Linked DNA regions of Homo sapiens. The protein of the gene in region 1 interacts with the protein of each later gene in a pairwise test. Each region holds a gene or a part of one and is shown in the gene's direction. Other genes may lie near its edges.

What was found. Proteins that work in one complex are often made in the same cells at the same time.
Region 2: the proteins of TMEM43 (region 1) and GRAMD2B interact in binary tests that used the Homo sapiens proteins (3 or more experiments, as listed by UniProt).
Region 3: the proteins of TMEM43 (region 1) and SCGB1A1 interact in binary tests that used the Homo sapiens proteins (3 or more experiments, as listed by UniProt).
Region 4: the proteins of TMEM43 (region 1) and CISD2 interact in binary tests that used the Homo sapiens proteins (3 or more experiments, as listed by UniProt).

What each region holds. Positions count from the first base shown.
Region 1 is NC_000003.12:14,128,052-14,131,551, forward strand, and holds part of TMEM43 (transmembrane protein 43), read left to right. Parts: intron 1-1,360; coding exon 1,361-1,510; intron 1,511-2,770; coding exon 2,771-2,905; intron 2,906-3,500. UniProt on the Homo sapiens protein: May have an important role in maintaining nuclear envelope structure by organizing protein complexes at the inner nuclear membrane. Required for retaining emerin at the inner nuclear membrane.
Region 2 is NC_000005.10:126,471,909-126,475,408, forward strand, and holds part of GRAMD2B (GRAM domain-containing protein 2B), read left to right. Parts: intron 1-329; coding exon 330-396; intron 397-1,356; coding exon 1,357-1,460; intron 1,461-3,500.
Region 3 is NC_000011.10:62,417,583-62,421,832, forward strand, and holds the start of SCGB1A1 (uteroglobin precursor), read left to right. Parts: upstream 1-1,450; 5' UTR 1,451-1,513; coding exon 1,514-1,568; intron 1,569-4,250. UniProt on the Homo sapiens protein: Binds phosphatidylcholine, phosphatidylinositol, polychlorinated biphenyls (PCB) and weakly progesterone, potent inhibitor of phospholipase A2.
Region 4 is NC_000004.12:102,878,992-102,882,491, forward strand, and holds part of CISD2 (CDGSH iron-sulfur domain-containing protein 2), read left to right. Parts: intron 1-3,500. UniProt on the Homo sapiens protein: Regulator of autophagy that contributes to antagonize BECN1-mediated cellular autophagy at the endoplasmic reticulum.

The sequences.
Region 1 (3,500 bases):
CCAATAACTGTGTTCTTTGGTTCTCACCACAACCCTATGCACAGAGGAAATGGAAGGCACAAAGTGGTGAAGTTGCTTGCCCAAGACCCCGTAGCTGGTATGTGGCAGAGCATAAATGCAAACCCAGTTCTTCTGGCTCCAGAATCCTGCCCTAGACGATGACACTTTTGATCAGCAGTGGATGCACCCCAAATCATGCCTCTGTTATTGACCAAAGCCTGATCCACTCACCCTTGAGTTTGAGGCCCACTGTGAACCTGCCCAGAAATGCCTACCTCCAAGCCCTTTCTTCCTCCACTGCTCCCACCCAGCCAAAGCAGACAGGCAGCTGCTCCCCCAGAACCACTTCCTACTTCCTCATCACTGCTGATACGGTTCTCCCTTTAGGGATGCTCTTCCCCTAAGATCTGCCTCTAAGATTCCACTCAAGGGAGCCTCCTTGATACCCCAGGTGGAAGGGGTCACTCCTTGAGCACCAAGTCCACCCCCATCACAGGACCCTCTGTGTGACCTTCTAGTATTGTTTATGGTTGTGACCTCACTGCCCTAAGACTGTCTACTTCTGACCCCACAAGGGCTAGCACTGCCCTCAGAAAGCTCAGCCACTGTTTGCTGAATTTAATTAAAAATACATCTCTAATAACCTCTTTGTAAAATAGCTTGGCAGTTTCATAAAAAGTTAAACGTACATCTTCTTCACGAGCCAGCAGTTGTACTCCTAGGTATATTCCTACGGGAAATGAAAGCACATGTCTGCATAAAGGTTCATGTATGAATATTCACAGCAGCATTATTCATAACAGCCAAAACCTGGAAGCTGTCAAGATACCCATCCACTGACGAATGATTCAGCACACTGTGGTATAGTCATAAATGGAATACTACTCAGCCATGAAAAGGAACAAATTCCTGATAAACACCACAACATGAATGAATTGCAAAAGCAGTGCTCTGAGTCCAAGAAGCTGGGCAGAAAGGAGTTGGTGCCCTGATTCCATTTTTCTCAAGTTGTAGAAGAAACAAACTAATCTACGGTAGGAGAAATTCAAATTCAGATTCTCCCCATCCCCACCAGTTACCTCTGGTTGGTGGAGAGGGGGAGAATTGGCAGGAAAGGGGCACAAAGAAACTTTTTGGGGTGATGGAAATATTTTGTACCTTGCTTTAGATGTTGGTCAGATGGAATATACGTTTGTGGAAACCTGCCAAACTGTACATTGAATATCTGTGTGTTTTTACCACATACAGTTAAAACTAAAAAAAAAAAAAAAAAAAAAAAAAAATTGAGTATAAATAAATAGCAAATTTAATTTATTTTTAAAAACTAGTTTTCATTCTGTTACTGTTTCTTTTTCTTCAGTATTCCAGTACCAGTACCCGGAGAGAACATGTCAAAGTTAAAACCAGCTCCCAGCCAGGCTTCCTGGAACGGCTGAGCGAGACCTCGGGTGGGATGTTTGTGGGGCTCATGGCCTTCCTGCTCTCCTTCTACCTAATTTTCACCAATGAGGTAAAATGTCTGGGGTCTTCCTGTGCAGAGTGAGAGTCCCCACCATGTCAGAGAGCAAAGGCGATGAACCCGGAGGCTGGATTTGGTAATCAAGGGCCTAGATTTTAAAAAGAGAAAGGAGGATACTGAGTTAATCACAGTTCTTTCCATTGTGATCCATCCCACAGCTGATGTGAGCAGGAAGGGGAGTAGATCAGTTCACACACCTGAATATCCAGGGGTTAGCACCTGCCTCAGGCGTAGTTGGATCCAGGTGTTCATGCTGGGTCACCAGGAATCTCCATTTCTTCATCTTTTGCCTGTTTTTCTCTATTATGGTGTTTTTCTTGGGCAGGCACTTCATCTGTGATGGCAAATGTGGCCCCAGCAACTGGCCTACATCCAACCACTTAGCCCAGGGAAGAGAAAAACCATCTGTTTCTCTTCCTTTCTTTCTTTTCCTTTCTTTCCCCTCCCTCCCTCCCTCCCTTCCTTTGTTCCTTTCTTCCTTCCTTCCTTTGTCTCTCTCTTTCTCTCTTTCTTGTTTGTTTGTTTCTTTCTTTCTCTCCCTCTCTCTTTCTTTTTCTCCTTTTTTTTAATAGGGCCTCATGATGCAACAGTATATTTCTAAATCAATTTAGCAGCAGTTACAGGGCCATCTCTCAGTGTCCTGGCTTGGCTCTCCGTCCTCTGAATCAGTCTCCGTGTCCAGGGCGCACTCACATGTTCTGACTGGCAAGGTCTGGGTCCCATAATCTGACCAGGGTTCAGATAGACTCAGGTAAACCACATGGGCTGAGTAGGAGAGAGGAGAGCCAGGCATGGAGGCTCAAGCCTGTAACCCCAGCACTTTGGGAGGCCAAGGAGGCAGGATCGCTTGAGGTCAGAAGTTCGAAAGCAGCCTGGGCAACATAGCAAGACCCCATTTCTACAAAAAACTTAAACATAAAAATAAAATTAAAAAAAAGAAGGCAGAGAAAAATGGGGAGAAAGGGACAGGCAGGCAGAAACATCAGCTGTTCCCACCACTGGGGCAGTGCTAAGATTGGTGGGGGCTAGTGGGAACCAATGGGGCAGTAGGAAGAAGTCTCCCTGGGAAAGCAGGAATCTGGGTTCCAGTCCTTACTCTCCACTTGCTAGACCTCAGTTTTCCAACTGTACGGTGGGGAGATGGGTCTCAGCGCTCCCGGAGGCCCCATCCTACCCTAATACTTTGCAACAAGCACAGTCATGCTGAGCCACCCCTGAGCTGTTGAAATCCCCACTCCCCTTTGCTCCCAGGGCCGCGCATTGAAGACGGCAACCTCATTGGCTGAGGGGCTCTCGCTTGTGGTGTCTCCCGACAGCATCCACAGTGTGGCTCCGGAGAATGAAGGAAGGCTGGTGCACATCATTGGCGCCTTACGGACATCCAAGGTAGGTTTGGCAGGGGATGCTGACCTGCCAGTGGCTCGGGGCTCATCCTGGATGTTGTCTGGCTGAGGATTTGAAAGCATGGGCCTTGGAGATGGTCACACATGGGAGTGATTCCCGACTTTACCACTCAGCAGCTGTGTGGACTTGTCTATCCTGAGTCTCAGTGTCTTCGTGTATAAAATGGGGACGGTAATGGTTACAAGCTTGTGGCCAGCCTTGAGGATTTGGTGAGATTAGGTAACTAACGCCTTGGTACAGTGGCTGGCACTCAGGGAGGTGCTCTCATGACTCTGATGACCATGTGTGTCCAGTGCAAGGCCACAAAACTACCCTGGGCACCAGAGCTTTCCTGTTATTTGAACACCCTGTACGCTGTTGGCACCATGCCATTGGGCCATGCAGCCCAGGCCTGTACTGTGAGGGTCACAGTCACAGGCACTGTGTGTAAAGAACCTGGGACAGGGAGTGTCCTCGATTCTCCCCTGCAAAGCAGTGTAGGGCTCTCCACCCTTGTCCCCTTCTCTATTTCTTCCTCTTCCAGTCCAGCTTCCCCTGAGCCAGGCTTTCTGGGCTGACGTGAATGTTATCCTTTATT
Region 2 (3,500 bases), on another chromosome or scaffold:
CCAGTATCTTCCCTAATGAGATTCCTTAGAATTTCATCCCATTTCTCATCAGGGACATCCTTGTCCAGCCCTGTTACCTCGGCAGTAGGCTGACCAGCAGCTGCATCATTATATCCAACCAGCAAAGCATTAAACTTGTTAGAAAATGAAACTGTGTGCCCAGACTTTCACTGTGTTTTACTGAAGGCTTGTGTCAGAGACTGTAAGATCAGTGAGAAGGAATTCCTAAAGATACTATTAAGGGAGGGAAAATTTGTTGTTGAAGTTGAATTTGTGATGTTTCACAAGAAAGTGAGAATGGTGATGCTTGTATTTTGTTCTCATTGTAGTACAAGGCCAATATGCACTTTCACAAGTTGTTTCTTAGTGTCCCAACGGAGGAACCACTGAAGCAAAGTAAGTTCTGACCTGTTTGACTTTTTAAGCTACATATTTGAAAAGTTGATCATTAGTTTTGGGGAAGAAAAAGGGCATAGTCCATGGACTGAGTCACCAAGGGGATCAGGTTTCTGAAAGTAATAACATAACAATAACACCAGCTTCAGTCAGCTTTCACCAGGCAGCGTGAAAAGATCACAGAGGAGAAAAAGAAACAGTTCTCCATGGGGTATGGAGTCACCCAAGATGGTTCCGTGATGCCCTTCCCTTCTTTATTTATTGCTGAAATGCACATGGTTACATTGCTTTAAGATTTAGGATAACAAGCCTGGGGCAAGAGAGGCCACTAGAAGAAGGCTAAAAGAAAACTCACATCCTTAGACATGGACAGACATGTGCTGATGCCACTATGAAGGGTAAGATAGTCACCTAAATATCTTGCCCAGCATGCTAGTTAAGCACGCCTACTAGACTCTGCAGTGGTTCATCAAGGGGCCCAAAGTTCCATTCTAGCCTCTCTTGATGTGCAAAAGTTGAGGCAAGATGCTGGGTTCCTGCCATGACCTTCAAACAGGAGGTGTGGGTTATGTGCTCTTCCCCTAGTGAGGCCATGTATTTTGAAAACAGTCATTCCTGAAAATACTGGGGAAAAGGGGAACAGGTGTACTAATATCAGCACATGGTGACACACCAGGCTAAATAGAGGAGACTTGTAAGACCCCATTCTTGGTCTCTCAGGTACAATGGTAGATTTGCCTTTTCATTCTGATATTTATACTGAAGTTGGTAAGACTTTGAACTTAAAAGCAAACTGGTTGCCACAGCTTTCTTTCCATAAAGATGACAGAAGAAGAGGTAATAAAACTTTTGAGTGTGAATGTATTATCTCTGCCCATCCTTGAGTCACCAAAATATATACACGGTTTTTATTTTAAGTGGAAATTCTAAATGATGCTGTGCCTGTGTATATTTTCCCAGGCTTTACCTGTGCTCTACAGAAAGAAATACTATACCAAGGAAAGCTCTTTGTATCAGAAAACTGGATTTGTTTTCATTCCAAAGTCTTTGGAAAAGACACAAAGGTTGGTATAATTAAAAAAAAAAATGCTAACCCTATACTTTATTATATATGGTAAATATTAATCATCTTAAATTTAGCTATATTTGTAGATATTTGTATCATGGTTATTCTTTTATGTCAAGTTTCTTTTGTTGTAATTCCAAATACTATGCATTCTAAATGCCTCCAGAAGACACTAACTTCCCTTTTTCCCTAAACATTATTTTCTCACTCATTTGTTTATACACATATACCTCATATATACACATGTACCTCACCCATAACCATACCCTAAATCCTTTTTACTCAGATGTCACCAGAGAGCACTCAAAGTTGTTTATATGGAGGGTGTGCCATGATTTTCAAAGACATACATTTAAACCAAAATCATTTCTTTTAAGAAACATCAATTTTTATACCATATTTATACCAGTTACCAGTGATGCGTAGGACAGCAGGCCTATAAATAAGCTACTTATTAGCACTCCCTTTGTACCCTCACCAGCACAAAATGAGCAGGAGGTGGAGCAGTTAAGGCCTAGCCTGGGTAAGTCAGACATCCTCAATCCCAAGTGTACTCTGATATTACATCTTTTCATTATTATTAAATATAGATTTGGGGGAGCAGAGACACATGACATCCTGAGGCATTAAGGAGAACAGCCTAAAGGAATTGGCACTGCCCTCTAAACTGGGGACCGTGGGACTATGGCCTATCAAAGAAAAGATAATTCTATCCCACTGACATTTTTTTACCTTTGAGCTATGATGTCACATCACAGTTCATTCAGGCCTCCAGAATAACACCAGAGAAACACCTTCTTGGGTTTGCATGACCTTAGTGAGTTTTCAGTCATTCTGATTCATGATTATGAAGAAGCAACTTTCATACTCATGAAGTCGCTGATTAAAACTTCTTTTTGAGTAGTAGATGTGCCTTATTTAAATATTCTCTCTAAAACCACTGGCAATTGCATAAAGACCACTTAACAAATCTAATAGGAATATTTTCTTTTGTTGGTGTTGGAGCTAGAGGCTAACATACTATTCTTTAGGTAAAACATATTCTTTTTTATTGATTTTTTATCATATAGAGCTATGTTTAGCTAAGCATTATTTGATCGACAGTATTATCTGAATCAGTATAATACAAAGCAATATGAAGCAGTATTTCATATATTTCTACATTTCTGGATTAAAGGTCTTGTTCATGGAATGGGGAAGGGGATTGGGTAGTACTGATCAATGTGATATAGTTCTCAGGAATTCATAGAGAGCCAACATCTCTGAGCAGAGCAGCAGGGACTGAAGATACTAATGAACAAAGTATTAGTCTTTGTTAAGGGATGGGGGATTCACAAAGGCAGTCAGTGCACTTTCAAGCTAATCTGACTCTAGCAATGGTTTTAAAGTTCTACTTCTACCTAAGAACTGATAAAAAGAAGTTAGAAGGAGTGACCCTGGTTTTTTGAAGACATGGATATACTGAGATTGCTTTTACAACGTGTAACCTACAGAAGCAGGAGACTGAAAATTAGCAGGCCATGGGAATAAGAACCATGATAGTGACTTGTATGTTCCATCCCTTCTAAGGATGGTGTCAAAGGAGATTTGGGCTTCAGAGATGTTGCAGAATTTCCTCACTGCCAATGGACCTCAGTCCAACATGGTCCAATATGAGCTGAAGGCACCCAAACAATTGCTCTACAACGGGAACTTTCCAATCAAGTTCCCCTTCTAAAGCAGTTTACCCTGGAAAAATGTTACCATTACCCTGGAAAAATATTAATAAAGTATAGCCTTAATTTAATCCGGACCTTTTTAGTCAGCCTGTCGGTATTTTCAGATGCCAGTAAAATTAACATGCATGTATCACATTCTGTCTAAGCTCAAACTGAAAAGTGATTTAAGCTTTATTTTACAAATGTTATCTGGTTGTAATTTTATACTCATGAAGCAATTGCTTGAAAACTCCTTCTTAAGGGTGTTCCATGCCTTAGATTATGAAAAATCTAAATTTCTAGCCCTTTGTCACTGCATGTTTGTATTGTTGCTCAGAAAC
Region 3 (4,250 bases), on another chromosome or scaffold:
ATTTTTATTTATTTATTTATTTTTGAGGAGTTCTTGAAGTGCCACGCAATGCCTCTCCATGTCTATCTACCCCAGTTCCCGACTCCTAGCACCACATCTGGCACATCATAGGTGGTCAGCATTTATTGGATGAATGAATGGATCAATATTTGATTGAGTCTTGAAGTACGAATAGAATTTGGCGAAGTGGACAAGGCAGGAAATGTGTATTCAGGCATGAGGCTTAGCTTGTGCATAGGTAGAAAGGCATGAAAAAACATGGAACATTCTCGAATCCACAAATAGTAAGAGAGGGCTAAGTCGTTGTGTGGGGGAGAGGAGAAATGAAGTTCAAATGGTAGGCAAAGGTCAGTGGGCAAGGGCCTTGTAAATTGCACTTGAATTTTATTCTTTAGGCAAAAGGAAGAGTTTAAGGGTTTCAAGAAGAAGGACACGACCAGTGGGTTTTAGGAAGATCATTCTGATGGCCTTTCAGAGGATGGCTGAGGAGAGCTAGCAGGGAGGCAGGGAGGTCGAGTCAGGGGATTTTGACCAGGCCAGGTTAGGTGCTATGAGGCCCGGGCTTTGGAGAAGAACCAGGAAATGGCAACTGGAGGCAAGAAAGGGGAGAAGGCCAAAGCCTGGGAACCATCAACACTTAAGAACAGTAAAGAATAAACATCTAAAGAGAACAAGAAGGAATGGCCAGAAGAAGGAAAACAGGAAAGAACTGAGGCGTGGGAGCGCAAGAGAGAGAATGGTTCGAGAAGGAAGCAGTCACAGGTGTCAAGGCCATTGGGAGGTCAAGTGAGATAAGGACTGAAGGTCCCACCAATTGGGCCATCAGGAGCACAGGACTTGAGAGCACTTCTGGGTGGGAACAGACCCAGCCTGGGGCAGGGCTCAGGTTTCTGATGGGAATTCTGGAAGGGTCCCTTTTATTCAACATGCTTCAATCCAGGGGCCCCCGAAGTCTGACCACAGCAATGCTCCAAACCATGTGTCTTTCCTGGCTTAAGGTTCAGTCGCCCTCCTCAGAGGGGAGCCTATGAAAGAGCCCAGTGGAGTGTCAGGGTCCTGAGTCCTAGTCCTAGTCCTGTCCCTGCCACTTGTGAGGGAACTTGGGCCTCAGTTTCTCCAGGTGGGCTCCACAATTGCTTCTCTTGATCTGGACTGCCCCAGTGCCCAGGTTCAGTGAGTGACACAGGCAGCTGGGTTTCCACATCCTCTGACTTGGGTTCCCTTCACTGCCTCCAGGCAGGGCTCGGCCCTCCACCCCCAAGTGGCCCATTGTGTGAGCTCAGTTTCAGTGGGGACAGAAACTGGGTTGAGAAAAGGGAATATTTACCTATCCCACCAAGCCAATGCCAAGTAAATAGTGCAGTATCTTATGTAGAGCCCTTGCCCTGCCCTTCCCCATCTGGGTGCTGCTGCCTAGAGCATATAAAAGGCACCTTGCTGGGCATGTCTCATACTAGCCCACCAGACTCAGAGACGGAACCAGAGACGGGCCAGAGCATCCCCCTCCTCCACCATGAAACTCGCTGTCACCCTCACCCTGGTCACACTGGCTCTCTGCTGCAGCTCCGGTGAGTGCTCAGAGACCCTTCCCTCCCTCCTGGACTTAGGAACTCTCAGGACCCCCCAGTTCTGCTCAGAAGAAGGAGTGAGCTGCCCATTCCTGCTCTGGAGCTGCTGGGAGGACCTGGGCATGCTGAGTCTCAGAAAACTGGGTCTGGTGAGCAAGCTCATCTTGGAAACTTGGAGAGAGCCCCAGGCTGTAAGGAAGCCTAAAAAGGGTCCCATCTTCTATATCCAACAACCCTCAGAATCCCAGGGAATGGAATAGCCTGGAGGGAGGAGTGGAGAATACCCCATAAAGATGAGTACATCCAGCATAGGAATAATGAGGCCCTCATCCCAGATCTGGACAGACTCCAAGATGCTGAGACCTTGGTGCAGCCTCCAAGTCTGGGGTCTCCACTCCATGCTGGCAGCTGAAGTCACTGGAAGGGGAGCTGCAGGGACTCGTGACCCCAAAAGAAACCCAACCCAAGACAAGGTCTCTCATTCTGGGCACAGAGGAATATTCCAGAAAGAGAGCTTCCCTTTGGGGAACTGCCAACCCAGAGTGAAGTTTTCTAAACATTTCCGTCCTCTGCAAAAGGGATTAGGAGTCTCTGAGTAGTTGCTGCTGTCACTAAAAGGAAAAGAACTGTGGGGGGAAGAGGGGCAGAAAGAGAGACGGAGAGAGGGGGAGAAAGGAAGGAAAGAAGGATCACAGCTCTCTCCAAGATCCCCCGTCTTTGGGGAACTGGGTTATCTAACTCTGTTTTTCACTCTGCGTCAGCCTCTTCCATTCTCATCTGAAAATGCTGTTGTTATTTTTTAATAAACAAACTCCAATTAATTCACTTGGAAAGCTTCACAACACCCATGGAGATAAGTTTTATGACCCTGGGGAGTTAGAAAACCCAAACCAAGAAGCAGTAGGAACAACTATTTTGCAGAGAGGTTTATTTGTTTTTCAGAGAAAATGACATCATTTTGGACTGAAATGTGTATTAATTAGAAGATCTCAGTGCTGTCTGCGTACAGAGGTGGGTGGCTGAGCAAGATAGGACTGCAACATGTTAAGGGGTGGGTCAGAGATGCATTTGTCTATTTGTGTGCACATGCATACAATATTTAACACTTACTTCACACAATGTGCCAATCACTGTCACCCTTTCACATAATATCTCTTTTCATTCTTTTTTTTTTTTTTTTTTGAGACAGAGTCTCGCTCTGTTGCCAGGCTGGAGTGCAGTGGCGCGATCTCAGCTCACTGCAACCTCCGCCTCCCGGGTTCAAGCGATTCTCCTGCCTCAGCCTCCCAAGTAGGTGGGATTACAGGCACGCACCACTGCACCCAGCTAATTTTTGTATTTTTAGTAGAGACAGGGTTTCACCATGTTGGCCAGGATGGTCTCCATCTCTTGACCTCGTGATCCACCCACCTAGGCCTCCCAAAGTGCTGGGATTAGGCGTGAGCCACCATGCCTGGCCTCTCTTTTTATTCTTACAACAACCCTATGAAGTAGGGATATTGGGCCAGGCACGGTGGCTCACGCCTGTAATCCCAGCAATTTGGGAGGCCGAGGTGGGTAGATCACTTGAGGTCAGGAGTTCAGGACCAACCTGGCCAACATGGTGAAACCTTGTCTCTATTAAAAATACAAAAATTAGCCAGGCATGGTGGCGCATGCCTGTAGTCCCAGCTACTTGGGAGGCCGAGGCAGGAGAATCACTTGAACCTGGGAGGCAGAGGTTGCAGTCAGCCGAGATGGCATCACTGCACTCCAGCCTGGGCAATAGAGCGAGACTCCGTCTGAAAACAAATAAATAAATAAAAATAAAATTTAAATTAAATTAAAATTTAAAAAATAAAAAATAAAATGAAGTAGGGATATTGTTCCCATTTTACAGATGAGAAAACTGAGCTACAGAAACACAGAGTGACTTGCCTGGTGACACAGTAAGTTACACATCAAGGACCTAAGTTCTGGAGAGGGTCTGACTTGGAGTGGCAATTTCTAGTGAGGCCCTAGAGTCAGAGGAGGGAAGGCAAATTTGTTCAGAAGGCAGAGAATTCAAGGAAAAGGGATTTGAGACTCACTGGGAAGATGGAGGCAAGCAGTGGGTAGAAAATGGTGACTTTCCCCCATGTTCCTGGTTGTAAGGACCTGAGAAGAAAACAGAGTCTGGAAGCTCTGTGTTGAAGGGAATGAAGTGGTACAAGTGGCTGCTCTGTCCATGAGCTGAGTGTGCCACAGGGCCCGCTGTGCACATGTGCACACCTCTTCCCGGCCAGGTTCGGGGGCCCATGTTTGGCTGGTACAATCTCAATGGCTTCTTTTCTTTTCTTTTCTTTTCTTCTTTTTCTTTTCTCTTGCTTGCTTGCTTGCTTGCTTGCTTGCTTGCTTTTTGAGACAGAATCTCGCTCTGTTGCCCAGGCTGGAGTGCAGTGACGAGATCTCAGCTCACTGCAACTTCTGCTTCCTGGATTCAAGTGATTCTCCTGCCTCAGCCTCCTGAGTAGCTAGGATTACGGGTGCCCAGAACCACGCCCGGCTAATTTTTTGTATTTTTAGTAGAGACGGGGTTTCACCATGTTGGCCAGGCTGGTCTCGAACTCCTGACCTCGTGATCTGCCTGCCTCGGCCTCCCAAAGTGCTGGGATTACAGGTGTGAGCCACCGTGCCTGGCTTACAATCGCTTTTTCCTGCCAG
Region 4 (3,500 bases), on another chromosome or scaffold:
CTTACAATTATGGTGGAAGGGGCACCTTTTTCACGAGGCAGGAGAGAAGAGTGAAGAGCAAAGCAGGAAGAGCCCATTTTAAAACCAGATCTCATGAGAACTCACTATCAGGAGAACAGCATGGGGGAGATTGCCTTGATGATTTAATCACCAACCACCAGGTTCCTCCCTTGACGTGGGGATTATGGGATTACAATTTGAGATGAGATTTGGATGGGGACACAGAGCCAAACCATATTAGTAGATACTTAATAATTATATAGTAAATATTTAATTTTTATAGTAATAATTATATAGTAAAAATTTGTTTAACAATGAGAAATTGATTTATTCTTTCAGAAAATGTTTAGTAAGCACTTAATAAAAATCAGAAGGGGGGGATTGATTGGGAAAGTACTACAAGAGCAAACTTTCTGGGGCAATGGAAATGTATTTTGTCTTAGGTGGTGTTTATAGGTCCATATAGTTACAAAACTCATCAAACTGAGCGCTTCACAAACACAAAGCTTGGCCAGGTGCGGTGGCTAATGCCTGTAATCTCAGCACTTTGGGAGGCTGAGGCAGGCAGATGGGAGTTTGAGACCAGCCTGGCCAACATGGTGAAACCCCATCTCTACTAAAAATATAAAAATTAGCAGGGCGTTTTGGCAGGCACCTGTAATCCTAGTGACTCAGAAGGCTGAGGCAGGAGAATCGCTTGAACCCGGGAGGCAGAGGTTGCAGTGAGCCAAGATCATGCCACTGCACTCCAGCTTGGGCGACAGAGCGAGACTCCATCTCAAAAACAAACAAACAAAAAGCACAAAGCTCAATAAACTGAACTGTAAATTAAACACTTCAAACAAAAGTAAGTTAAATAAATTGAGCCAGACGTTATATAGACACTGGGGACACAGATGATCAGACAAATAAGGTCCCTGCCCTTGTATCTCTCTTTTTCTTTTATTTTTTATTTTTTTTATTTTTTTGAGATAGAGTCTCTTCTCTGTCTCCCAGGCTGGAGTGCAGTGGTGAGATCTTACCTCACTGCCACCTCCACTTCCGGGATTTAAGTGATTCTCCTGCCTCAGCCTCCTGAGTAGCTGGGATTACAGGCGTGTGCCACCATGCCCAGCTAATTTTCTGTATTTTTAGTAGAGTTGGGATTTCACCATGTTGGCCAGGCTGGTCACGAACTCCTGACCTCAAGTGATCTGCCCACCTCAGCCTCCCTTAGTGCTGGAATTACAGGCGTAAGCCACCACGCCCAGCCCCCTTGTATCTCTTATATTGTGAGTGGGGAACATGATAGGTAGATGCAGCCATTAAAATTTATGTTTCCAACTGATATTAAGGAGTTGGGGAAATAATATAATAATCTGACATACCATTAAGTGAAAAATGCAATATAGCCTTATTTTTTAAGCATTTACAGCCTATGTATTTACATACCAAAAAAGAGATACATTTACCAAATAAATACATAAATGTTATTTTTTATAATCCTAAGACAAAAATAAATAATATGCTGAATAAAATACATTATTTTATACAAAAATTTGCTTGGTGTGGTGGCGCACGTCCATAATCCCAGCTATTTGGGTGGCGGAGGCACAAGAATCACTTGAACCTGGGAGGCAGAGGTTGCAGTGAGCCAAGATCATGCCACTGCACATCAGCCTGGGTGACAGAGTGAGACTATCTCATTAAAAAAAAAATATATTTTAAATTATTTTATTTGGTCAGGCACGGTGGCTCACGCCTGTAATCCCAGCACTTTGAGAGGCCAAGGTGGGTGGATCACCTGAGGTCAGGAGCTTGAGACCAACCTGACCAACACGGTGAAACCCCATCTCTACTAAAATACAAAAATTAGCTGGGTGTGGTGGCGTGCGCCTATAATCCCAGCTACTCGGGAGGTCACTGAGGCACGAGAATCGCTTGAACCCGGGCAGTGGAGATTGCAGTGAGCTAACACGACACACACTCCAGCCTGGGAAACAGAGCGAGACGCTGTCTCAAAAAAAAAAAAAAAAAATTTTTTTTGCACATTATTTACAGTTAGTAATATTTTCCTTTCAAAGTATCTAAAATATCTGTAATAGCTGAACATATATCAAACAGATCTATAGAGACTAGCACATGTAAAATTTTTTTTAAGTTTCTTGTTTGATTCTTCTGTATTTTATCTTTCTTCATATAAAATCAGCCTTAATTGACAGAGAAATATTCTATGTACTCATTCATATGTGGGAACTAAAAAAGTTGATCTCATGGAGATAGTCAAATGGTAGTTACCAGAGGCCAGGAAGGGTAGGGAGGGAGAGAATGAAGAGAGGTTGGTTAATGGGCACTATAGTACGGTTATATAGAAAAAGTTCTAGTATTCAATAGCATAATAGGGTGACTATTGTTATCAGTAATTTTAGTGTATATTTCAAAATAGGAGAGAAAATTTGGAATGTTCTCAATATAAATAAATGATAAATGAGGTGACGAATATCCCAGTTACACTGAGTTGATCATTGCACATCATATGCATGTATGCATGTAGCAAAATATCACTTGTACCCCATAAATATGTACAGTTATTATGTATCAGTACAAAAACAGCCTGAATAAATGTACTTACAGTCATTTGAATTGAGCTTTTCAAGCTGTATTGCTTTCATGTATAAAGTTTTTCAGTAGTTAAATTGTAGTTGGTTATCTTTAAAAAGTAGATTATGTTAAGACTTTGGTAAGTTATTACTTTGTTGTAGGAGGTAATAGTACCTCTCATCACTGTATTTTTAAGCATAGTGTTTTACCAAGGAATTAAGTGTTCAAAAGAATATTTTCTGAAGTGGATTTTAAAACAGTAGTAATACCATTTGTTCTTGAGGTTTGTGGGTTAAGATAGGAAATGCTATATTTAAGAGTCTAACATTAAGGTTTTCAACCAGGCATGGTGGCTCACACCTGTAATCCCAGGACTTCGTGGGGCTGAGGCAGGCGGATCACTTGAGGTCAGGAGTTTGAGACCAGCCTGGCCAACATGGTGAAACCCCATCTCTACTAAAAATACAAAAATTAGCCAGACGTTGTGGTGTGCTCCTGCAGTTTTAGTTACTTGGGAGGCTGAGGCAGGAGGATAGCTTGTGCCCGGGAGGTGGAGGTGGTAGTGACCAAGAGCACACCACTGCACTCCAGCCTGGGCAATGGAAGTGAAACCCTGTCTCAAAAATAAATAAATAAGATTTTCATCTTTGCGTTCCCATTCACTCGCTTTTTGATAAATTTAAGCTCTTATGACTTCTAAAATATTGTAATATGTACAATAATACTTAATGTTATTCTACATTGAACAAACATTTAATGACTGCTATTTCGAGTTACATACTGGATGCTGGGGCCAATTGCAAGCTAAGATAATTAGTCAGATAAAACAGAAGGAACTCCATATGCAAAGAACTCAAAAAGGCTGCTTACTAGACAGTAGCTTTCGCTGGCCTCAGGTACATGAAGAGACCATGTTTGTG